3 linked regions of the Homo sapiens genome follow. The protein of the gene in region 3 purifies or fractionates together with the protein of the main gene of each other region. This does not show direct contact. Each region holds a gene or a part of one and is shown on either strand. Other genes may lie near its edges.

The links.
Region 1: the proteins of ZNF707 (region 3) and TRIM39 purify together in Homo sapiens (affinity purification with mass spectrometry; 3 studies listed by BioGRID and IntAct, with this or other methods). This does not show direct contact.
Region 2: the proteins of ZNF707 (region 3) and TOR2A purify together in Homo sapiens (affinity purification with mass spectrometry, with the first as the bait; 3 studies listed by BioGRID). This does not show direct contact.

Annotation. Positions count from the first base shown.
Region 1 is NC_000006.12:30,321,947-30,329,926, reverse strand, and holds the start of TRIM39 (E3 ubiquitin-protein ligase TRIM39), read right to left. Parts: upstream 3,001-7,980; 5' UTR 2,932-3,000; exon of another isoform or gene 2,771-2,931; intron 2,697-2,770; exon of another isoform or gene 2,231-2,696; intron 1,039-2,230; 5' UTR 886-1,038; intron 617-885; 5' UTR 610-616; coding exon 157-609; intron 1-156. Other genes in the region: TRIM39-RPP21 protein, read right to left, coding at 157-609.
Region 2 is NC_000009.12:127,732,295-127,740,144, reverse strand, and holds the start of TOR2A (prosalusin isoform a precursor), read left to right. Parts: upstream 1-4,850; 5' UTR 4,851-4,874; coding exon 4,875-5,025; intron 5,026-5,580; coding exon 5,581-5,846; intron 5,847-6,584; coding exon 6,585-6,760; coding exon of another isoform or gene 6,761-6,929; exon of another isoform or gene 6,930-7,371; coding exon of another isoform or gene 7,372-7,453; coding exon 7,454-7,581; exon of another isoform or gene 7,582-7,850. Other genes in the region: SH2D3C (SH2 domain-containing protein 3C), read left to right, coding at 257-463, 1,224-1,399. UniProt on the Homo sapiens protein: Salusins -alpha and -beta may be endocrine and/or paracrine factors able to increase intracellular calcium concentrations and induce cell mitogenesis. Salusins may also be potent hypotensive peptides.
Region 3 is NC_000008.11:143,679,858-143,687,535, forward strand, and holds the start of ZNF707 (zinc finger protein 707), read left to right. Parts: upstream 1-4,621; 5' UTR 4,622-4,685; intron 4,686-7,059; exon of another isoform or gene 7,060-7,157; intron 7,158-7,523; exon of another isoform or gene 7,524-7,621; intron 7,622-7,678. UniProt on the Homo sapiens protein: May be involved in transcriptional regulation.

The DNA.
Region 1 (7,980 bases), on a different chromosome or scaffold from region 3:
AGGACAACTGATCACACATACTGTGTGCCCCTGCATATGCAGCTCTGAGAATACAAAGTGAGTAGTAGGAGCTTACGATCTCTACCTAGGGAGTATCTCATCCTCTGCCGCTTCTCCCTTTTTACCCACACTGACATCGTGTGTCTGCTTCCCCACCTTGTACTCCTGTGTAGCATCGTCCAGTGGCACAACGGTGTGGGCCCGGTGGGTGTGGGAAATTGCACATATCAAGCATACAGCCTCCTGGTCCTCATAACAGAAAAGGCTGAGGGCCTCATGGTGTTGGGGGCAGAGGCTCTCATCCCGGATCTTCCGCTTGACGGCCTGGAGCTGCTTGGCAATTTCCACCATACTGCCTAGTTGCCGATTAGGTCGGAGACTGCGGTAGCGGGATGTCTTTCGACAGACAGGACAAGGGAAGTCCCTCTCTAGGTCCTCCCACCAGCGGGTGATGCAAGCTTTGCAGAAGTTGTGCCCACACTCAATGATGACAGGTTCCTTCAGATACTCCAGGCACACAGAGCAGCTCGCCTCCACCTGTAAGTTCTCCAAAGCCGCAGCTGTAGAGGCTGCAGAGGCCCCAGCCTCTAACAGACTTGTCTCTGCCATAATTTAACTTGGGAGTGGGGAAGAGGACAGAGAAAATAAAAATATTAATTGGAGGTTTTTTCTTTTTTTTTTTTTTGCATCCCTGACCCGACATTTATCCCTATGTTAAGTCCTAACTCCAGATTTGCCCCTTCTTGTTATTCTCCATCTTCTCTTCCAATCAATTCAACCTCTTTGTTTCTCCATTTTCAAAACTTGTGACTCCCAGCCATCAACCTTTTTTTTCTTGTTAGTAAACTGACACACAACCCCCAATTGATCTATCTTGTCTCTTACCTCTGCTTTCTCTTGTTAGAAAGAGAAGCTTCCTTCAACTCTAGCTCAGCATACTTCTCCTGATCCAGGCTCATTCCACTTATATCTTAGAACCAATAGTTCCAGACACTGTATCCTCGTTTGACATACGTTTCTAACAGACAAGAAAGGAATCTGAGAAGTAAAAAAGTCATAAAAATATTAACATTTCTTAAATTAACCATATTTTAAAGTTTAATGTTATAAGAGCTTTATGATTAATCCACTGGAGTCTAAGCTTGATTCTCTGACACTGTTCTCTCATTCTTCTAAATCACAATATCCAACCTTTTGGCTTCCCTGGGCCCACTGGAAGAAGTGTCTTGGGCCAGACATAAAATACATTGACACTAATGACAGCTGATAAGCTTAAAAAAAAAAAAGTCCATGCATAACTTTTGTTCTATCACCACCACAGAAGGTCCATGCATAATTTTTATCAGCCACCACAGATAAGCAAAGAGAGTCCTCATATTGAAAGGGTTAGATACCACTGCTCTAAAGGCTAACAAATGGAATGAATGAGGCAAAGGCAACCTCCTCTTTTCAGGAAAATCTGAAATTATTCTTCCTTTTATCCATCAGACTAGCCTAAAGGAAATCTGCTCTCTTCTTGGAATGACATTTCACGCAACATTCCATTTCTCTTGTGTTCATCTGGACACTCAGAACTGCTGAAAACTGATAAATTATGGCAACCATATTAAATATTGCTGAGCTCAGGCCAACGACTTCTTGAAAAGAGAGCAACGAGTCTATTTGTAGTGACTGGAATCTTTCAATATAGCTATTGATAACTAACACCCTGGGCATAGTGTGTCTCCAACTTATAGGTCCTGGAGTGGTTGCGAATTAAGAGACACAAAAGAGGCAATGAGATCTCCCTCAAGCGCAGCCTCAGAAGAATTGGAAATGCATAGGAGAGATTTATAAAACACAAGGCTGGCCCCCTACTCCATCCTTAAAACATCCATACTTTTAGCCATGGGTAAGTTGATTTAACTATCCCCATAACCTTTTCTCCTCCCGACCCCCATCCTTCTCCAGGGACCTACTGGAAGGAAGGAAATTTGGTAGATCTATGTGCTGAGAGATAAGTGGCCATGTAATGAGGTAGGTTAACAACAATTGTTCCTGTATATATTGTTGGCACACACAAATGTGTTTGATTTGGAGTAGGAACTGATAACTTCTTTGGATTTGAATTTCTTCTGTCAGCAATAGGAGAGAAGTTCAGTCAGATGATTTCTATCTGTGGGAATCCAACTTTGACTTGTGGTGATCCTACCCCTTCCTCAGTCTTTTACAAATTAAGTGGCCTCCTCACCTGAGACGAGTAGAACTGTATGCACAGTAAGGCACCAGGACGGATCTAGACTGGCAAAGAAGTGGTGAGAGAAATGGGGAAAGGGTTAGGGAAGAAGGGAGAGGACTCTCAACTACAGTCATAGTGAGACCTTGAGTGCCTCTGCGTTAGTCCTTCCTCTTCCTCTACTCCTTGTGTCTCAGCTGAAGGGCAAACTTCAGGGACAATCTCATTTTGTTTCTACCACTGTTCAGGGTCCCACCTTGCGACCCTCTCCTGAGAGGTTGTCCACAACTCTGTCCCACCCCCGTTCTCCATCTTCTTCCGCCAGATCTGGGGCTGGGGCATTGGAGAGGGGAAAGAGGAAACGTCGTGGCTGGCAGGGTAGGAAGGGATGCGTGTCCAGGTGAGAAAGAGGTGTGACGTGCAGATGGGATGCCCGCCGCTATGACGCTGCCGAGACCCGCGGTGACTGCGTCAGAGTTTCACCCGGGGAGGTGAGCAGCAGCGGGACGGGGGAACGGCGGGGTAGCCAAGCAACGCCGGACGCGCTGACGTCGCCGGGGCGGCAAAACGTCCGCCCGGGCCCGAGGCGGGCGGAGGCAGCTGTGGTTACGTGCGGGGGGCCGGTGACGCAGTCGCGGGGCGCTGGGACGCGGCTTGCGGAGCCGGCCGGCGAGCGCAGGCCCCAGGCTCGGGCGCGGCGGCGGGACAGCACCTACCTTCCCGGCTTCGGGTCCGGGAGTGCGGGGCGCGGAGCCGCCGGAGCGCTGCCTCCCTCCTTCCTCCTCCCCTCGCCCCCGCCCCGCGGCGCGACACACAATACTCGCCGGAAGCGGAAGCCGCGCCGAGGCTCGTGTCAGTGGAAGCTGGGGTGTCGGCGGGCGGCCGCGGCCGGGTCTAGCGGTGCCTGCGGAAGAAGGAGGAGGAGGGCTGGCGATGAGAAGCAGCAGGGGGAATCAAGGGCAAGAAGGGACCCAGAGGGGCAGGTGGCTGAGATGCTGGCGTCCAGGTGACCCGAGGAATCCTCTGGAGATACAGGCCCGCGCATGCGCGTGCTCGAGCGCTGAAGCCCATTGCCCGCAGGGCGCTGGACTGGCGCCCCGGCCGGCGAGGCTGTCTAGTCCAGGCTCCAGGCCCCGGCTCTGGCCAGGCGCCGCCGCCTCCCGGTGCAGCTGAAAGTCGACGAAGAGGGCGGGGCGGGGGCGGCTTGTGGACTTCCACACTTTTCCTCTCTTCGGGCCAGTCTGGGGAGAGGGTGGCTAGCTGTGGCGGCGGCCAATTACGTGGCGGACCTGCGGGGCTAAGCTGGCACGTCACTTCCGACTAGTGGAGTTTTTAGCCTTTTAACATTCAAGGATTAGGTAAGTTCTCCCCGCGGTAGACTTCAAATACTCTTTGTCCTGCCCCTGCTTGGCGAAATTTACCGAAATTATCTACCTATCCCGCTGGAGTGGGAGCCGGGGGAGAGCTGGAACCGCGTCTCTGCTGCTCACCTTTGTGTCCTTAGCTCCTTCGCATGGGGTCCGACCGCAACACGTGCGCTGGATAAACGCTTGTTAACTGGGTGAGAGCCAAGGCCTGTTCTTTCCACTTCTGGGGCTGTGACTTGAGTTTCTCCGCAGGAGCAGATAGTGTTTGTGTAGGGACTGCGGACTTTTGCATTACAGCCTCCCTGCTTTGCCCGCCTGCTGCTGGAAGCTTAGCAGGTCAGTGATTTTGGAGGAAGTGGGTGAGGTGATGAGGCTGGGGAAGAGTATGCTGGGAGAGGTGTGAGGGGCCCGGGAAGAGGTGATGGGGCTGGGGAGGGGCTAGTAGTGGGTAGAGGTGTGAAAAGGCTGAGGAGGAGGGGTTAGTGCTAGGAGGGGTGTGACACGGCTGGTAGAAAAGATAGCTTGCTCCGCCTCCCCGCCGCCAGCACTAGTCATGGAGAATATTCATTGAAAGAGATGAGCAGATTTTGCTGTACTCTCCTCGGTGAGAAAGGGCCCTAATTTCCGGTGTAAATTGTGCTGCTGTTTACAAACACCCTGCATTATTTAACCTCTCATCTTGGGAGCCAGAAACTATTTACTTGCTGAAAATATAATCCAGTATCTAAGGTATAAAGATTTGGGATCACACATGCTAATTACAGTTGTCTACCTTTACTGTTCCTTTTTTTGTGCCAAGAATTGAAGAAGATTAAATTTGAGAAAATTACATTTGATACCTTTTTTCACATTGCTATGTAGCCGTTAGGGATTTTAGCAGCAGCACTTGTTCTAATTCACAAGATGTCTCACTTGTAAGGGTAGTTTGAAAGCCACTAACTGGGCAGTGAGCCTCCTTAGCCGTGGCTTCGGAGGGAGAGAGAGATTTGGTTTTGATTTGTTAATTTGTGGCGCTTAAGATGTTGATAGCCCTCCTTTCTGGCTTTCTGTTTGTAGATAACCAGGAGGAATGTGATTAGACTAAGGAAATTAACAAGAGGAGGTCCAGTTCTAAGGACTGTGAAGAATGTGCTTGCCTAGAGACTGATATTAAGGGGATTTTATGCTGAATATGGAAGGAAAAAAGGGAGACTGTCTAGGTAAAACTATAAAATTATGAAGCGCAAGTAGTATGACATATAACAGGGCTTGGCAAATCTTTGCTGTAGAGAGCCAGAGAGGACATCTTTTTGGCCTTGTGGTCCATACTCAGCTTTCTCCTTGCAGTATGAAAACATCATTAGACAGTACTAAATGAAGGCTGGGCGCGGTGGCTCACGCCTGTAATCCTATCACTTTGGGAGGCCGAGGCGGGTGGATCACCTGAGGTCAGGAGTTTGAGACCAGCCTGGCCAACATAGCGAAACCCTGTCTCTACTTTTTAGTAGAGACAAAAATTAGCCGGGCGTGTGGCGCGTGTGGCGCGCACCTGTAATCCCAGCTACCTGGAAGGCGGAGGCAGGAGAATGGCTTGAAAGCAGGAGGCAGAGGTTGCAGTGAGCCGAGATCTCGCCACTGCACTCCAGCCTGGGCGACAGAGCGAGACTCTGTCTCCAAAAACAAACAAAAGCTAAATGAGCATGGCTGTGTGTCAATGAAACTTTATTATGGATGCTAAAATTTGAATTTAATAACATTTTCAAGTGTCATTAAATACTCCCCTTGGATTCTGGCCCTCCCTCCCCAGTCATTTAAAAATGTAAAAACCATTCTTAGCTTTTGACGTATACGAAGACAGATAGTAGACCGTAGTTTGCCGACTCCGGACAGGATAATAATGAAATATCCGGTATTTTTCAAGCGATAGTAATTGGGAGAGAGTGAAAACAAGCTATAATCTCTTAATTTCATCTGTCTGTTTACCACAATAATAAAGGGGATCTGAATTCTTAACACAAATTTGTTATGGCCTTTGAAAGTTGCCAAGATTTATGAATGTACGTATATTCTCTAAACAAGAAAAGGTATATTCCTTGTTTAAAAAGGATTACAGTTCAAGAAAAGTGGAATAACACCGAGTTTTGATGTTGATTTATACCAAAGGATTTTCAACACAGGAATATGCAAAAATGAACTGTAATAATGGGATGTAATTAAACAAATTTTAAATATACATTTTTAATATTTTTATATCAATAAGGGAAAACAGAAGCAATCTTGAAATGACTGAGTCATATAGAGCAAATGGGCATATAAGCAGTGTAGGTAGGAAACTGGTTGAGGTCAGATATGATGAGATGGGAGGGATGAAGGCGGGGTTTAATTGTCCAAGACTTGTGAGATTCTTACTCATGAAAAGGCAATATATCTAATCCCCCTCCATTTTTTTCATTTTTTATTATGAAAAATTTCAAACATAGAGACAGTCTTCAGCTTGCTTTTTATACTTTATAGTGGCTTTTATTGTTCCAGTTTGGTGACATAGAGCTACCTCACTCTTTTTAAAGTCTGCATTATTCATTTTGTAGACATGTGATTTATTCAACAATTTTGAGTAGACATTTAAGGTTCTTTCCACATCTTATTAAATAAAGGCTGTCGAGAACATCCTTGTACATATCTCTTTAGATCGTCGTGCCATTATATTAGTAGGATAAATTTCTGGAAGTTTGGCTGCTGGGTTCGAAGGCATGGAAATTTAAAATTCTATTAGATTTTTACAATTATCTTTCCGTAAGTGCCTGGCAAGGTGTCAGAGCCCTGGCACCGGGAAGTGGTCAACTCGCAGGTTGGTAAAATGAATTTACCATACCTACAAACAGTATAGGTTTGAAAAAAGGAAAGTTTATTAGAAAGGAAGAACTGAAACAGCCTTTGCAAAATGATGACTGAGACAGTGAAAGAAATCTAACGTAACCGACTCCATCTTGCTTCTAAGCTCCAAGCTGTTCTTGTTCATTCCTGGGCGTAGGCTGAACTAACTTTGGGAGAAACTTAGTTTATAAACAAAGAGGGTAACAGCCCTTTCCCAAAGCAGACTTCCTTCTTGTCTGAGGACTAGACTAACATTAGCCACAGGATTAGAATTTTTGGTTTAGTAGTCATGCAGCTGGAGGCTGCAAGATTCTGACCCTCCCTAAACTGCTCCTGTGATCAGTGCTTGAGGTATTTTGCAGACCCCGTACTTGATGGGTCAGCTGGCACTACCCACATCAATAAACTGGCTCTTTTTTTTTTTTTTTTTTTTTTTGGAGACGGAGTCTTGCTCTTGTCGCCCAGGCTGGAGTGCAAATGGCACGATCTCGGCTCACTGCAACCTCCGCCTCCCGGATTCAAGTGATTCTCCTGTCTCAGCCTCTCGAGTAGCTGGGATTACAGGCACCTGCCATCACGCCTGGCTTTTTCTGTTTGTTTTTTTTTTTTTGTTTTTTAGTAGAGACAGGGTTTCACAATGTTGGCCAGGCTGGTTTCCAATTCCCGACCTCCGGTGATCCACTCACTTTGGCTGCCCAAAGTGGCTCATCTGATTATGTGGCCCCCACCCAGGAACTGACTCAGTGCAGGAAGACGGTTTTGATTCCCTACAGTTTCATCCCTGACCAATCAGCACTTCTGGCTCACTGGCTTCCCCCCACCCACGAAGTTATCTTTTAAAACTCTGCTCCCCCGTGCTCGGGGAGACTGATCTCCCACACAGCTGGTTCTGCGTGAAGTACTCTTTCTCTATCACAATTCCCCTGTCTCGATGAATTGACTCTGTCTAGGCATGGGCAAGGTGAACCCCTTAGGCGGTAACAGAACACTGCAGAAGAGTGCAGTGGGGCGCCTCAGCAAGAGGACTAAGTGTGCTGCCATGGATTTTTCTTTAGAGGTATTTATGGACCTTAAGGCAGGAGCTTAGGATAGTAAAAAGAGTTTCGGCATGGCATTTCAGAGATGTATATAAATTTTAGTTACTTGTAAAAGTTGAAAGAGGCCTGGAACCAGACTTTAGATACTAGGAAAGTTTAATTACTTCTGAATTCCCAGAAAAGGAGTTTCGCCTCTGTCTGGCCCGTTTGGTGGTCACCAGGTGGTCTTTGTTCCCTTCGAAATTCCTCAGATCAGGAGCTTTTGTCTGTGGGGCCTATTCAGTGGTCAACAGGTGATCAACCTCATGGTCAACTTCAGTAAGGTTGCACCTATTTTTATCCACACCAGCATATCATGAAATACAGTAGTCCTCCCCTTATCCTCGGTTTCATTTCTCAAGGTTTCATTACTCTTGGCAACCACAGTCTGAATATTTTAAGTGGAAAATATCAGAAATAATTCCTAAGTTTTAAATTGGCACCTAAACAATTCCTGTTTTAAATTGGG
Region 2 (7,850 bases), on a different chromosome or scaffold from region 3:
TGAGCTCACTGTTCCTGCTGGCAGCTGTGTCAGCCCTGTTCATGTCCAGGCTCAGCCCTTGGGGCTGGGCCAGGGCTGCAGTGGGTTCAGTTGGGGGAATCCGAAAGAAAGGGTTTGTCCCAGGAGTCAGGAGCCCTTGGGGCTCTCTCCCGGACCTCAGCCAGGCCCGTTCCCTCCTGCACCTCAGCTTCCAGGACTGCAGTGGATGGTGGGGCACTACAGGATCTTTAAGCGCCTGCTGCCTTTCTCCTTGCAGAAGGCCCGCCGCTGAGCAACACCACGTTTCCTCATGTGCTGCCCCTCATCACCCTGCTGGAGTGTGACTCGGCCCCACCAGAGGGCCCTGAGCCCTGGGGCAGCACGGAGCACGGCGTGGAGGTGGTGCTGGCTCACCTGGAGGCCGCCCGCACAGTGGCACACCACGGAGGCCTGTACCACACCAATGCTGAAGTCAAGCTGCAGGGTGAGTGGCGGGTGGCATCTTGGGGGGCTTGCAGGCCTGGGCCTCCCTCCACCTGCCTCACTGCTTCCCTTTTCTCCAAGGCATCCATTCACATTTCTCCACTCCTCTGTCCTGCCCTGTCTCCCTGACCCCTTCCTCTCATGTCTTTTCTTTTCTTTTTTCTTTTTTTTTTGAGATGGAGTCTCACACTGTCGCCCAGGCTGGAGTGCAGTGGCACAGTCTCGGCTCACTGCAACCTCCGCCTCCCAAGTTCAAGCGATTCTCCTGCCTCAGCCTCCCGAGTAGCTGCAATTACAGGCGTGAGCCACCATACCTGGCCAATTTTTTGTATTTTTAGTAGAGGTGGGGTTCCACCATGTTGGGCCGCTGGTCTTGAACTCCTGACCTCAGGTGATCCACCCGCCTTGGCCTCCCAAAGTGCTGGGATTACAGGTGTGAGCCACCGCACCCAGCCTAAAATGTATACATCTTTCTTAGGAAATAATTTGGAACTTAACAGAAAAATACGAAAAAAGAAAAAAAATCACCAAAAATCTGCAAACATATTTAACATTAATATTTTATGGTCTAGTCATTTTTAAATTATATGCTGCAAATAACAGGACAAAGATGCTAAACTACAGGGTCGTGTTGATTCACAAACCTTGTTGGATCCCTGGCGGAGTTGAGGGGAGGTCCCTAACAGGGGGGTCCTGAAGAATGCTAGGGCTCTGGACAGGAACCCCAGCCTCTGCCCTGACCCTATGCCCCAACACTGCAGGGTTCCAGGCCCGGCCGGAGCTCCTGGAGGTGTTCAGCACGGAGTTCCAGATGCGCCTTCTCTGGGGCAGTCAGGGTGCCAGCAGCAGCCAGGCCCGGCGCTATGAGAAGTTCGACAAGGTCCTCACTGCCCTGTCCCACAAGCTGGAACCTGCTGTCCGCTCCAGCGAGCTGTGACCCCAGGGACATTTCCCCTCTGCAGCTGCGGACAGCGTCAGGGGCAGAGGGGCACACAACTTTCCCCAGAGCACCCCAAGGACACTGTGATCAACCCGAGAATGTTCTGGGTTCAACTCAAGCATCTCCCTTGCACCTCCAGGGTCCTGCGTGGACTCTGGGTTCCATCCCACCTGCTACATGCTCACCAGGTCTCCATTGAGGAAGAACAGGAACGCCGGTTCCCCCACCAGCTTTTGCTGCTCCCCTTCCTGCTGGGGTTCCCTGTTTTCGAGCCATGGGAGGCAGGCTGCTCACGCCTCCTCACTCTCTGTCTGTCCCTCACCAACACCAAGGCCTCCATCTCACTGTAAATAAGTCTCTGTTCTGTAAATAGATGTACAGAAGCCATGTTATTTCTTTCATATAATAAACTTTTATGACTCTTTATTCTGTCTCTCGGGCTCCTGGGGTAGAAGGAAGCACCTTTTCTCAGGCGAAAGGTAGAAAACTTCATTCAACAAATGTTGTGAGTGAGTGCCGAGTATCTGGGGCCAGTGGCATGGGAGTAAGAAGAATTTACCAAGACAGTTGTAGGTAAAGAAAGGCAGATTTATTTCAGGAAGCATGAAAATGCATTGCAAGGTAGCAACGGGCAGATCAGCAGAAGAGGAGCTGACTGCAAAGAGACAAAGCCTTGCTGTGAGTTTTTATGGGATGGCATTTCTGCTGTGTGCTGAACAGGGCTTTCTGCAGTACTGATAATGCCAAGGTTGCAGTGGGCTAACCTACATGTGTCCGGTGAGAAGTTGGGCACAGGAGGGCTGTGTGTCCTGAACCATCAAGAAGGCAGACTTCTGGCCAGGCATGGTGGCTCATGCCTGTAATCCCAGCACTTTGGGAGGCTGAGGCAGGCGGATCACCAGGTCAGGAGATCAAGACCATCCTGGCTAACATGGTGAAACCCTGTCTCTACTAAAAATACAAAAAATTAGCCGGGCGTGGTGGTGGACGCCTGTAGTCCCAGCTGCTTGGGAGGCTGAGGCAGGAGAATGGCGTGAACCTGGGAGGTGGAGCTTGCAGTGAGCCAAGATCGCGCCACTGCACTCCAACCTGGGCAACAGAGCGAGACTCCGTCTCAAAAAAAAAAAAAAAAAAAAAAAGGCAGACTTTGAGCTTATCTGCTTTCTCTTTTTGCTTTCCCCTGGTCCCATCAGCATGACTCATTTTCCCTAATTAGGACTCAACAACAAATACTTCTTTAGCACCTGGGACAGTCCAGATTGTGCCAGGAGCCAGGGTTACAGCAAATATGAAAACCCAATCCTTGCTTTCTGGGAGCTCACAGACCAGCGGGAGAGATAAATAGCTAATTCCAACCCAGTGCTCCTATCCCCTGCCCTGCCCTGGGATGGATGCCATGGCAACAGTTCCCACAAATGCACAACCAAAAATCCGAGGATTTGGGGTGGAAGGGCTTTTTGAAATCTATGATCCCAACTCCCCTCTTGAAGACTGGTACCTGAAAGGAGAAGGGACTTTTCCCGGGTCACAGCAGCAGCAGAGTGGGAAAGGCTCCACCTGGCTTCCTGGACCCAGACTTCTCTCCTTTTTTCTCCTTGATAGTGGGAACTACTCATTTTCTTCTTTTCTTTCTTTCTTTCCTTTTCTTTCTCTCTCTCTCTCTTTCTTTCTTGTTTTTTTTTTTTTTTTTTTTTTTTTTTTTGAGATGGAGTCTTGCTCTGTCACCAGGCTGGAGTGCAGTGGCACAATCCCAGCTCACTGCAACCTCTGCCTCCCGGGTTCAAGCGATTCTCCTGCCTCAGCCTCCCCAGTAGCTGGGATTACAGGCATGCGCCACTACGCCCAGCTAATTTTTGTGCTTTTAATAGAGACGGGGTTTCACCATGTTGGCCAGGATGGTCTTGATCTCTTGACCTTGTGATCCGCCCGCCTCGGCCTCCCAAAGTGCTGGGATTACAGGCGTGAGCCATCGTGCCCGGCCTCCTTCCTTCCTTCCTTCCTCTCTTTCTTTTTCTTTCTTTCTTCTCTTTCTTTCTTCTTTCTCCTTCCTTCCTTCCTTCCCTCCTTCCTTTCTTTTCTCTTTCTTTTTCTTTCTCTTTCTTTCTTTCCTTTCTTTCTTCCTTCCTTCCTTTCTTTCTCTCTCTTTTCATCCTTTCTGTTTCTCCTTTCCTTTCCTTTCTTTTTCTTTTTGAGATGGAGTTTCACTCTTCTCACTGCAACCTCCGCCTCCCGGGTTTAAGCGATTCTCCTGCCTTAGCCTCCAGAGTAGCCAGGATTACGGGAGCCTGCCACCACGCCCGGCTAATTTTCGTATTTGTAGTAGAGACGGGGTTTCGCCATGTTGATTCACGCGCCTCGGCCTCCCAAAGTGCTGGGATTACAGGCATGAGCCACCGCACCTGGCCGGAAATACTTATTTCTTTTTCAGGCTCTGATATTTGGCCCCAGAAGTCGTGTGTGTGTGTGTGTGTGTGTGTGTGTGTGACTATGTGTTGAGGTTGGTAGGGACAGGGTCTTTGAGGTGGGCCATGAAGGCTGTTGTCTTGGTTCCCTTACTCCAGTGGGTGGGGGAGGTGGGCAACGTGGATCAAAACGAATCCAGGCCAAGCTGGAGGCCTAGGGAGCCTGCGCGCTGAACCTCAAACGTCTGGAGTCCTTTGCCTTCTGAATCCTTTGACCAAGAGAGGCTGATAACATGCAACCACGCACTACGGCTCTGGTTGCAGCCAGACTTGGGTTTAGTTCTATTGTTTACCAGCTGCGTGACATTGGGTAAGAGGCTTAACCTCTTCGGTCCCAAATTCCTCCTTATTAAGATGGGGACAACAACAGAACCCATCTCCCAGGACTGATACCAAGCATTTGGCCACAGTTGCTGCTAGGTGAGGGACAGTCCTGTTTAATACACAACGGAATGTTGATGATCATGTATTGACCACTTTCTGAGCCAGACAATTTGTGTGCCTTTATCTCATTGGAACACCACCATTTCTCTGGATAGCAGATACTATTACCATATTATAAGGTATATAGGCACTTAGCACTAATGGCACAGAGTAAGTGCTCACCAAAAGCTGTTAGTGAGGGCACTTTTGTCATATAGAAGAAAAAAGGAGCATGGAAAAGGCGCTTTGCAAGGTGTAAGGTTCCGCACAAGTTTTTGCTGTAATTGTTACGTCGCCCTTTGTGGTCGTGATCCTTTATTTATTCTTTCTGAGCCACTACGATGGTCCCCTAGTTACCGTGGCCATGGAAACGCGGCCCGCCGTCCCGGATTGGACGGTTCGCGGGTTCCCCCTGGAGGCCACCTTCTGGTCCTGCTGCGGAACGACGGGCGGGCCTTGGAGGCGGGGAGAGGAGCGTCGGGAGTTGTAGGCGATGGGCGTGGCTGCTGCGGAGCGGTGCACGCCGGGAGTTGCAGTTCCCGGGCGAGGCAGTTGACTGCCCCACAACGAGCTCGGGCCTCACCCGGATGGCGGCTGCGACGCGCGGCTGCCGGCCCTGGGGCTCGCTCCTCGGGCTGCTCGGGCTGGTCTCGGCCGCGGCCGCCGCCTGGGACCTGGCTTCCCTGCGCTGCACCTTGGGCGCCTTTTGCGAATGCGACTTCCGGCCCGACTTGCCGGGTGAGGCGCCAGGGAGCCCGGAGCGAGGGGCGGGCGGACGCGGGCAGACGCGGGAGCGCTGGGAGCCCTGGGAGCCCGGCTGGCGCCGGCCAGAGAAGCTGAGGACCCAGAGGGTGGGACCGAGGGGCGGGGCCCGCAGACTTGGGAGGGTGGAGGGTACCCGTTGAGGTCCAGGAGGCCCTGCCAACCTGGAGAGAGGCCTCAGCCAGCAGAACCCTTGGTGGAAGTTCTTGGGCCTCCCCGGAATGGCCTGGCCGTCAAAGGAGAAGTGCAGTGCGCCTTGGGGATGGGCGGGGTCTGCGGCTGACCCCGTTGACAGCTCGCATTTAGAGCTGAGTGCAATCTAGAGGACCGCCTGGTGGGGGCGCTGCCGAGCTGAATCAGGCCCGAAGGTGGCTCTTTTCCGCCACAGACCCCAAGGTTTGCGTGCCATGTGCATAGGCAGCTTGGACAAACGTAAGGACACAGGAGTCCCAGACCAGGTTCCAGACATGATGTTCTCCTTGAACCTCTGCCTCGGTGGGATGTGTCCTCACCATCCTCCTGTGGCCCTAGGTCTGGAGTGTGACCTGGCTCAGCACCTGGCCGGCCAGCATCTGGCCAAGGCGCTGGTGGTGAAGGCGCTGAAGGCCTTTGTGCGGGACCCAGCCCCCACCAAGCCGCTGGTCCTCTCCCTGCACGGCTGGACCGGCACCGGCAAATCCTATGTCAGCTCCCTGCTGGCGCACTACCTCTTCCAGGGCGGCCTCCGCAGCCCCCGCGTGCACCACTTTTCTCCCGTCCTCCACTTCCCCCACCCCAGCCACATCGAGCGCTACAAGGTAGGCTGGATGCGTCCTTGACCACTGTTCTCACCATGGGGTGCCACCCTAGGGAGTAAGTCCTGAGCCCAGACAGGGGAGTCACCTGCTCCAGGCCACACACGGCTGCAGCCCCAGCCCTCAGGACCCATCCTGCACAGAACTTGGGAAGGTGTCATTCTACCTGGCAGGGAGTACTTTGATTCCTTGGGGCAGTAAGGAACCCTGGCAGTACCTACATGCCAGGGTTGTTGTGAGGGACATGAGATTATACCATTGCAGATATCATTTATGGAGCACCTATGTTTGTCAGATAATCTGCACTGTTGTCTTGCTGGAAATCAGCCCCAATTTGTGGCTCAGAGGAAGCATCAGGAAATATTGGCTCTTACTACTACTGTTGTTGATTGCAGGGTACCCACCAGGCTGATCAGTTTCAGCCGTCAACACTGCTGTGTAGTTTCAGGGAGCAGGAAGGAGCCTTCCCCTTTTATAGAAAGCAGCAAGTGTCGTGGAAGGAGCTCTGAACAGGGAAGTGGGAGGCTTGGGTTTGAGTCCCTGTTCTGACTGGCTGTGTGACTTTGGGCAAGTCTCTGCCCCAATCTGGGATACAGTTTCACCATCAGTCTCACTAAGAGGTTGGTGCTCTCTGGAAGACCACATCCTTCCCTAGAAAGGAGATTAGTTTTGGTTTGGGAAGAGGTCTGGTGTTGGGGGAGTTTCTCCAGCTCCCCTGGAACTCCTGTCTCTCCCCTACAGAAGGATCTGAAGAGCTGGGTCCAAGGGAACCTCACTGCCTGTGGCCGCTCCCTCTTCCTCTTCGATGAGATGGACAAGATGCCCCCAGGCCTGATGGAAGTCCTGCGGCCTTTCCTGGGCTCCTCCTGGGTGGTATACGGGACCAATTACCGCAAAGCCATCTTCATCTTCATCAGGTGGGGCCCGGCTTTGCAGTGGGCACAGTGGGGGGGCCACTTCTCAGAGGTTCAGCTCTACAGCCTTAGCCTGTGCTCCCAGCAGAATCCAGTTCCCCATGGGCTTAGCTGGGCTTTCCCAGTGCCCTCCGCCACTCTCAGAGATGACATTGTCATTCCGCCTGGTTGATTTCCCTTTGGACATTCTCAGCAAATTCTGGGCTCAGTCTTTTTGATCGCCACTTCTTTGTGGAAGCCCTGCCAGGTCAAGAAGTTTTCCCTCTTTTGTGGTGAGGAGGACACAGGCCTGGGAAAAATAGGAACAGAGTTCTTGTCCTTTAGTCCCAGCTCTCAGAATCCTCGCTGTGTTTCCTCAGGCAGCATGGCTCCGCCTCTCTGAGCCTCTGTCTCTGCTTCTGAACAGCGGGGCCAATAATGATGCCCCGATGCCTTCCTGGAAGTTCAGTGAGGGAAAGTCAGTTGAGGGACACAAAAGTGTTTTGTAAACTATAAAGTACGTGGCATGTGTAGGTGAATTACAGGGGCCATGGATGTGGACACCATGGAGGGGGAAGTGGAGCGTTTTCAGTGGAGTTGGCTCCTCCCCGCACTGAGCCATGTTCCTATGTCAGGTGGCAGCGGGGAAGCGAGGGTCCAATCCTGCCCTGCGCTAGTCCTCATCTGAGTCTCAGCCTGGGTCCCCCATGGTTTTAGCAACACGGGTGGCAAGCAGATCAACCAGGTGGCATTGGAGGCGTGGCGCAGCCGGCGGGACCGCGAGGAGATCCTCCTGCAGGAGCTGGAGCCGGTCATCTCCCGCGCGGTGCTGGACAACCCGCACCGTGAGTCTGGCTCAGCAGCCCCCTCCCGGGCAGCTTCACCCCACACCCAGGGGCCAGGCTCTCCCGGGGTCTCATGCTTTGCCCACTGACCCGGCAGTTCTGAGCCTGGCTTTGGCACTCCCAGCTTTGTGACTTTGGGTGAGCCTTACAGCCCCTGAGTCCTACACCCAGAAGGCGGCTGAGGGAACTGAGGCCAGCATTTTTCCTCCTGCCCCTGGGGGTTTGGGGCCGGCTTCTCCCCTCTTGTGAAGCACAAAGTCCCCTCCCCA
Region 3 (7,678 bases):
CTGTCATGCAGGAAGACATAGCTAGTGAGGAAGAAGGTGAGAACTCCCACTAATAAAATGAGTGAGAGTCTCAAAGAGGGGGAATAAGGGAGGAGACTGCCCCTCATATCCTCTTATGCCCAATTTCTGCCTCCAAAGAAAGAAGAAGTAAAAGCTAAAAGGCAGAAATGAAATCTACAGGTAGACAGCCCGGCGCCGCACCCTGGGCCTGGTAGTTAAAGACTGACCCCTGACCTAACCGGTTGTGTTACCTATAGATTCCAGACATTGTAAAAATCCCTGTCCCGTTCTGTTCCGTTCTGATTACCAGTGCATGCAGCCCCCAGTCACGTACCCCCTGCTTGCTCAATTGATCACGACCCTCTCACGCGGACCCCCTTAGAGTTGTGAGCTCTTAAAAGGGACAGGAATTGCTCACTCAGGGAGCTCGGCTCTTGAGACAGGAGTCTTGCCAATGCTCTCGGCCAAATAAACTCCTTCCTTCTTTGACTTGGTGTCTGAGAGTTTTGTCTGCATCTTGTCCTGCTACAAGCTCACGGCAACCTCTGCCTCCTGGGTTCAAGCAATTCTTCTGCCTCAGCCTCCTGAGTAGCTGGGACTATAGGCACGCACCACCACGCCCGGCTATTTTTTGTATTTTTAGTAGAGATGGAGTTTCACCCTGTTGGCCAGACTGGCCTCGAACTCCTGACCTATGATCTGCCCGCCTCGGCCTCCCAAAGTGCTGGGATTATAGGCATGAGCCACCGCACCTGGCCCATACAGCTTTTATAATATTATAGATTTTTTTCTTCCCAATGTTTTAAGAGATGGGGTCTTGGCCGGGCACAGTGGCTCACGTCTGTAATCCCAGCACTTTGGGAGACCAAGGCAGGCAGATCAACTGAGGTCAGGGGTTCGAGACCAGCTTAGCCAACATGGTGAAACCCTGTCTCTACAAAACATACAAAAAATTAGCTGGGCATGGTGGCGGGCCCCTGTAGTCCCAGCTACTCGGGAGGCTGAGGCTGGAGAATCACTTGAACCCAGGAGGTGGAGCTTGCAGTGAGCCGAGATTGCACCACTGCACTCCAGCCTGAGCAACAGAGTCAGACTCCATCCGAAAAAAAAAAACAGTTTTGAAAGTGTTGAGCACCCGATTCTATCGCTGATCGGGGCGCCACTTGTAACCTGCACGGACCTAAGGGGACTGAACAAAGGGGGCGAACTCGGGAATAAAGACAAGAGACAAAAGAGTATATTTGGAAGAGGGCGTCAGGGGGCACCTTGCCTCTAGTGGACAAGGGCCCTGAGCTTTACACAGCCCTCCGTATCTATTAGGCAAAAGAGATAGTGAGAAAAGGGGGGTGATTGTCGGGTAATTGTCAGTCGGCCTTGAACAGGCTGCATCCTTTGGACAATAGAGTATTTCTCAATAGATAACTTCAAGGAGCCCAGAGCCAGGGAGCGAGGCCCTCAGCAAACCTTTTGGTGGCAGGGCAGTGTGAGTTCACCCACATCCTGCATTCATGGTAAACAGTTTGCTGTTTGATCATAGAGCCTCCAGCGGAATGCTGAGTTGGTCACGTCCCACGGGCCTTCGGCTCCCTGCATGAAGCTATGACACAGGTGCCCTCCCTACAGTCTTTCCCAGGCCTGCTGGGTCTCAAGTAGCCATGTGGCACCCAGGGAGGCTGTCAAGGCTGTCTGAGGCCCGAAGTTACATCCTAGGTTAGAGCTCAGGACAGAAGACAGAGCTGTGAAGGCAATGCCTGGAGGATCCAACCTCTCCCAGAATAGCCAGGAGGCAAAACTGGCGAAAGGGGACCACATGGGGCTGGATTCTGCTTGGGAGCTGCTGGTCGAGGCACTGAGAACTTGTCCCCAGACCTCACCATGGCCACCTGTCCAGCCCCGATTCCAGAGGCTCAAAACCAAAAACATAAGTAACAGCAAATCAACAAGTATTAAATTATATGTAACTAACAATTTTGAAGACATTCCTATTGACATAGGATGTTGTTCTCAGTCATTCTGCAAGCCAGGGACCTCCGGCCAGCGACGCCCCGCCAGGGCCTCGCTTGACACACTACCTGCTGCAGGAGACAGCCCGTCAACTCCCCCGAGTTCCCGAATGCTTGTCCACGGCCAAGAAGAATGAGGAGGCTCTGACAATCGAAGAGTGAGCAAGGCGGGGAATTTCACTGGGTGACGGGGCAGCTTTCAGTGGAGAGGGGACATGGCGTGGTCCCCCTACATGAAGGCAGGAAAGTTCCCCATGTTATGGACTCAGAATGGGGAGGGCGTGCTGATTGGTTTGTGAGTAATGCAAAAAAGGTTAAAGCAAAGGCACCACTGAAAGGTGGGCATGACAGTGTAGAAAGCCAATTAGAAAAGGGTAGGTATATGTAAAATAGGTGAAGGGTGGGACCAATCAGAGGAAAGTGCGCCAGACAGGAAGACAGGCTCTCAATCCGGTCTGAGGATTCGACTTGCAGCTTGGCTTTCAGGCTTTAAGCTGTTTTCAGCGTCGAGGTGGAGGTTTCACTGGGGACCTGCCCCCATTTGGCTGGGCATTTGGCTGCCTGCCTCCTGTCGCTATCACTCCTTTACTAGTGAGGACTAAACTGATCTTTTTCTCTCTTGCTCAAGTTCTTATCTAAAGGGCCTGGGGAGTCTGCCCTACAAACCATAAAATGTCATCAGATAGGTTTTATTTAACCCTATATAATTGGCTTAGTTTCCAACCTGACTCTAGCATAACGTCACATGACAGATAAAGGAAATCAAAATATTTTACTCTTTTTTTTTTTTTTTTTTTGAGACGGAGTCTCACTCTGTCGCCCAGGCTGGAATGGAGTGGCGCGATCTCGGCTCACTGCAAGCTCCGCCTCTGGGTTTCACACCGTTCTCCTGCCTCAGCCTCCCGAGTAGCTGGGACTACAGGCGCCCGCCACCATGCCCGGCTAATTTGTTGTATTTTTAGTAGAGACGGGTTTCACCATGTTAGCCAGGATGGTCTCGATCTCCTGACCTCGTGATCCACCCGCCTCGGCCTCCCAAAGTGCTGAGATTACAGGCGGGAGCCACCGTGCCCGGCCTATTTTACTTTTAAATATATTTCTTGGCTATACTTTGGATGCTTTCAGGTCATAGGTGGATTCAAAGATTTTCTGATTGGCAATTGGTTGAATAAGTTAAGTGATTACCTAAGACCTGGAATCTATAGAAAGGCGTGTCTAGGTTTGAACAGTTGGCCACCCTTGTGTGGGTGGAGTATTACATAGGTGCCTAGGCAAGAGACTGAAGGCACAAACTGTTTCAGTATAATAAAGAAAATAGTTAGAATAAGAATAGTCATAATACAAATTAGATATAGAGATGACCATGAACAATTATCAATCATTATTATAAACATTATTAATCATTAGCTTTTACCATTACTCTTTGTTGCATTACTAATATAACCTAGGAATAACCGGCGGATATAGGGTCGGGTGCTGAAGGGACATGGTGAGAAGTGACCTAGAAGGCAAGAGGTGAGCCTTCTGTCACTCCCACATCAGGGCTGCTTGAGGGCTCCTTGGTCAAGCCCTAACGCCAGTGTCTGGGAAGTCACCCGTTGCTTAGTAGACTGCGAAAGGGAGTCTCCTTTCCTTGGAGGAGTCAGGGAACACTCTGCTCCACCAGCTTCTTGTGGGAGGTTGGATATTACCCAGGCCTGGCCGCAGTCATCCGGAGGCCTAAACCCCTCCCTGTGGTGCTTCAATGTTCACGCTCCTTGTCCACTTTCGTGTTCCTCCTGTACTCCTGGTTCCTCTTTGAAGTTCGTAGTCGATAGCGGTAGAAGAAATAGTGAAAGTCTTAAAGTCTTTGATTAATGCTAACTTATGCTGCCTTCTCTCTCTGCTTCCGCTACCTAAGAGGGAAGGGCCCCCTGTCCTGTAATCATGTGACTTGCTTCACCTTGTCAATCACTTAGAAGATTCACCCTCCTTACCCTGGCCCCTTGTCTTGTATGCAATAAATATCAGCGCGCCCAGCCGTTTGGGGCCACTACCGGTCTCTGCGTCTTGATGGTAGTGGTCGCCCGGGCCCAGCTGTTTTCTCTTTATCTCTTTGTCTTGTGTCTTTATTTATTACAATCTCTCATCTCCGCACACGGGGACAACACCCGCTTAGCCCCGCAGGGCTGGACCCTACACCCTTGATTGGCTGGAACTGGGTGACTGGCAGGAGAGCAAGTGACAGTCTGTTCACACCTCCAGTTAGGTTACAGTTCACTTTGTAGGATAAACCTTTAGGCCGACTTTAGGTTATGAGGGCCGGGATCGGTGGTTCACGCCTGTAACCCCAGCACTTTGGGAGGCCAAGTCAGGCGGATCACCTGAGGTCAGGAGTTCAAAACCAGCCTGACCAACATGATGAAACCCCCGTCTCTACTAAAATTACAAAAAAATCAGCCGGGCGTCGTGGCGCTTGGCTGTGACCGGGGCGGGGCCTGCCGGCTGCGGCGGAACCACAAGCGGTGCGGGGCGAGGCGGGCGGCCTGGACGGCCTGGAAGGCCAGCGCGCACCACCGAGACGTGGGCTCCTAGAGGGGCCGGAAGCTTTCGGATAACAACTTCCGCTCGGGAAGTTTGTAAAAGTCTGGGCTACCGGCGCGGCGTAGTGGATGCAGCATCCTAGTGGAGGACGCCCCTGTGGTGAGTGCGCCCGTGTCCCCCGCCGCCCCTCCGTCCCTGGGTCGTGGGCTGTCAAACCTTCTAATTCTGCGGCCGCCCCAGGGCTGTGAGACCCAGCGTCGCGGCTGCTGGGACAGACCGGGGAGGCTGCCCGTGCCCTCGGCTATTCGGGGGCTGTTCTTCAGCTTCTTCCGGCTCGGCCTCCTCTTCTCTCCTCGCTCCTTACACTTGCAGGTTTGTCAGGACCCGGTTGCGTATCCTCTTGAAGCTGGTTTCTTCCTGGCCGACCCCGTCCGCGATCGTGACCTTAGTTATCCCTCATAGACACTTTCCACACCTGTGTCTCCAGCCCTATCGCTCCGATGAGACCCGAGCGCTTAGACTTGATTCATAACACCCAAAGCTCCCCGGCCCCAGGCTGAGCTCCTGCAACCTCCACACCCCACCCTCTGGTCCTCCCAGGCATTCCACCGCGAAGGGGAGGAGGCAGAAACCCGAGATTCGCTTCTTCTCCTTTCCTGCCCACGCCCAGCCACACAGTCACTGGTGCGTTAGCTCCATAACTGAACCATTTGCCTCCTTGCCATTCCCACCCTGTAAGTCCCAATCCTGGCCGTCTTCCTCTCTCACCTGAACGCCTCCCTGTCTTCTCCCCACCCCCATCCTGTTTTGCTGCTTTCTCATTTGTTCATCACAGAGGATCTTTTATAAAATGTAGCTTAGCCAGGCAAGGTGGCTCCCGCCTGTAATCTCAGCTCTTGGGAGGCCGAGGCAGGTGGATCACTTGAGTCCAGGAGTTCTAGACCAGCTTGGTCAGCATGTTGAAACCTTGTCTCTACAAAAAATACAAAAATTAGCCGGGTGTGGTGGTGCACGCCTGTAATCCCAGTTACTCTGGGGAGGCTGAGGCAAGAGAATCGTTTGAACCCAAGAGGCAGAGGTTGCAGTGAGCAGAGATCGCGCCACTGCACTCCAGCCTGGGCGACAGAGCGAGACATCATCTTATTAAAAAAAAAAAAAAAAAAAAGGTAGCTTAGGCCGGATGCTGTGGCTGACGCCTGTAACCCCAGCACTTGGGGAGGCTGAGGCCAGAGGATCTCTTGAGGCCAGGAGTTTGAGATCAGTCTTGGCAACATAGTGAGACCCCGTTTCTGCAAAAAACTTAAAACAATTGCAGGGCATGTTGGCACATGCGCTTTTGGTCCCAGCTACTGGGGAGACTGAGGTGGGAGGATCACTTGAGCCCAGGAGGTCGAGGCTGCAGTGAGCTGTGATTGCACTACTGCATTCCAGCCTGGGTGACAGAGCAAGGACCTGCCTCAGAGAAAAAAAAATCCTGTGTTAATTTGCCTAGGGGAAAAAAAGTAGCTATGACAATATCCTTCTGTTCTCCCGTATTAAACTTTGTTGCATTACACATGAAACCACGGCTCAGGAGGCCTTGAGGAATCTGGCTTTAGCCCCTTTCCTGGCCTATCTCACGGTTCTCCCTGACTCTGCTTTCCAGGCTGGGAAGCCCAGTCCAGGTTGTGCAAACACAGCTGTTGAGCTGAGGGGAGAGGGTGTTTTTTTTTTGTTTTTGTTTTTGTTTTTTTTGAGATCGTCTCGCTCTGTCTCCCAGGCTGAAGTGCAGTGGCATAATCTCGGCTCACTGCAACCTCCGCCTCCCGGGTTCAAGCAGTTCTCCTGCTTCAGCCTCCCAAGTAGCCTGGCTAATTTTTTGCATTTGTAGTAGAGATGGGGTTTCACCATGTTGGCCAGGCTGGTCTCGAACTTCTGACCTCAGGTGATCCACCTGCCTCGGCCTCCCCAAGTGCTGGGATTACAGGCGTGAACCACCGCGAATGGCCGGGAGCTGTTATTTTTATCACTGTGGTCATTGCTACTTGCTAGAGGAACTCAGCAAGGTGTTCTAATTGGAAAACACCACCCATGACCCATGTGCTCAGTGTGCCTTTTCATGTTTTTATAGACCGTTGTATAACTTTGGTTGAAGTGTCTGTTCTAATATTTTGCCCAGTTTAAATTTTATTTCTCTTTTTTATTGATTTGTAGGAGTTACAATTCTTTATATAAGTCCTTTGTCAGATACATGTATTGGGAATATTTTCTCTTAGTCTGTGGCTTACCTTTGTGTCTCTTTTTAGAAAAAAAAATTTAAACAATAGAGACAGAGGTCTCCCTATGTTGCCCAGGCTGGTCTCAAACTCCTGGCCTCAAGCAATCCCCCTGCCTTAGCCTCCCAAAGTGCTGGGATTACAGGCGTGAGCCACTGCACCCCGTCTCCTTTTTTTTTTTTCTTAACTGCCTTGGTAAACAAAAATTTTTAATTCTGATAAATCCAATTTGTGATTTTTTTTTTTTTTTGAGACGGAGCTTTGCTTTTGTTGCCCAGGCTGGAGTGCAATGGCGCGATATCGGCTCGCCGCAACTTCTGCCTCCTGGGTTCAAGTGAATCTCCTGCCCCAGCCTCCTGAGCAGCTGGGATGACAGGCAAGTGCCACCACGCCTGGCTAATTTTGTATTTTTAGTAGAGATGGGGTTTCTCCATGTTGGCCAGGCTGGTCTCAAACTCCGTACCTCAGGTGATCCGCCCACCTCGGCCTCCCAAAGTGCTGGGATTACAGGCGTGAGCCACTGCATCCGGCCTGAATTTGTAATTTTTTAAAAGTGCTTTTAGGGATCCATGAAAGAAATGTTTGTCTACCCCAATGTTGTGAAGATGGTCTCTCTGTGTCACCCAGGCTGGAGTGCAGTGGCACAATCTTGGCTCACTACAACCTCTACCTCCAGTTTGTGTTTTTTGTTTGTTTGTTTTTGTTTTTGTTTTTAAGACGGAGTTTTGCTCTTGTTCCCCAGGCCGGACTGCAGGGGTGCGATCTTGGCTCACAGCAACTTCCACCTCCCGGGTTCAAGCGATTCTCCTGCCTCAGCTTCCCAAGTAGCTGGGATGACAGGTGCCTGCCACCATGCCTGGCTAATTTTTGTATTTTTAGTAGAGACAGGGTTTTGCC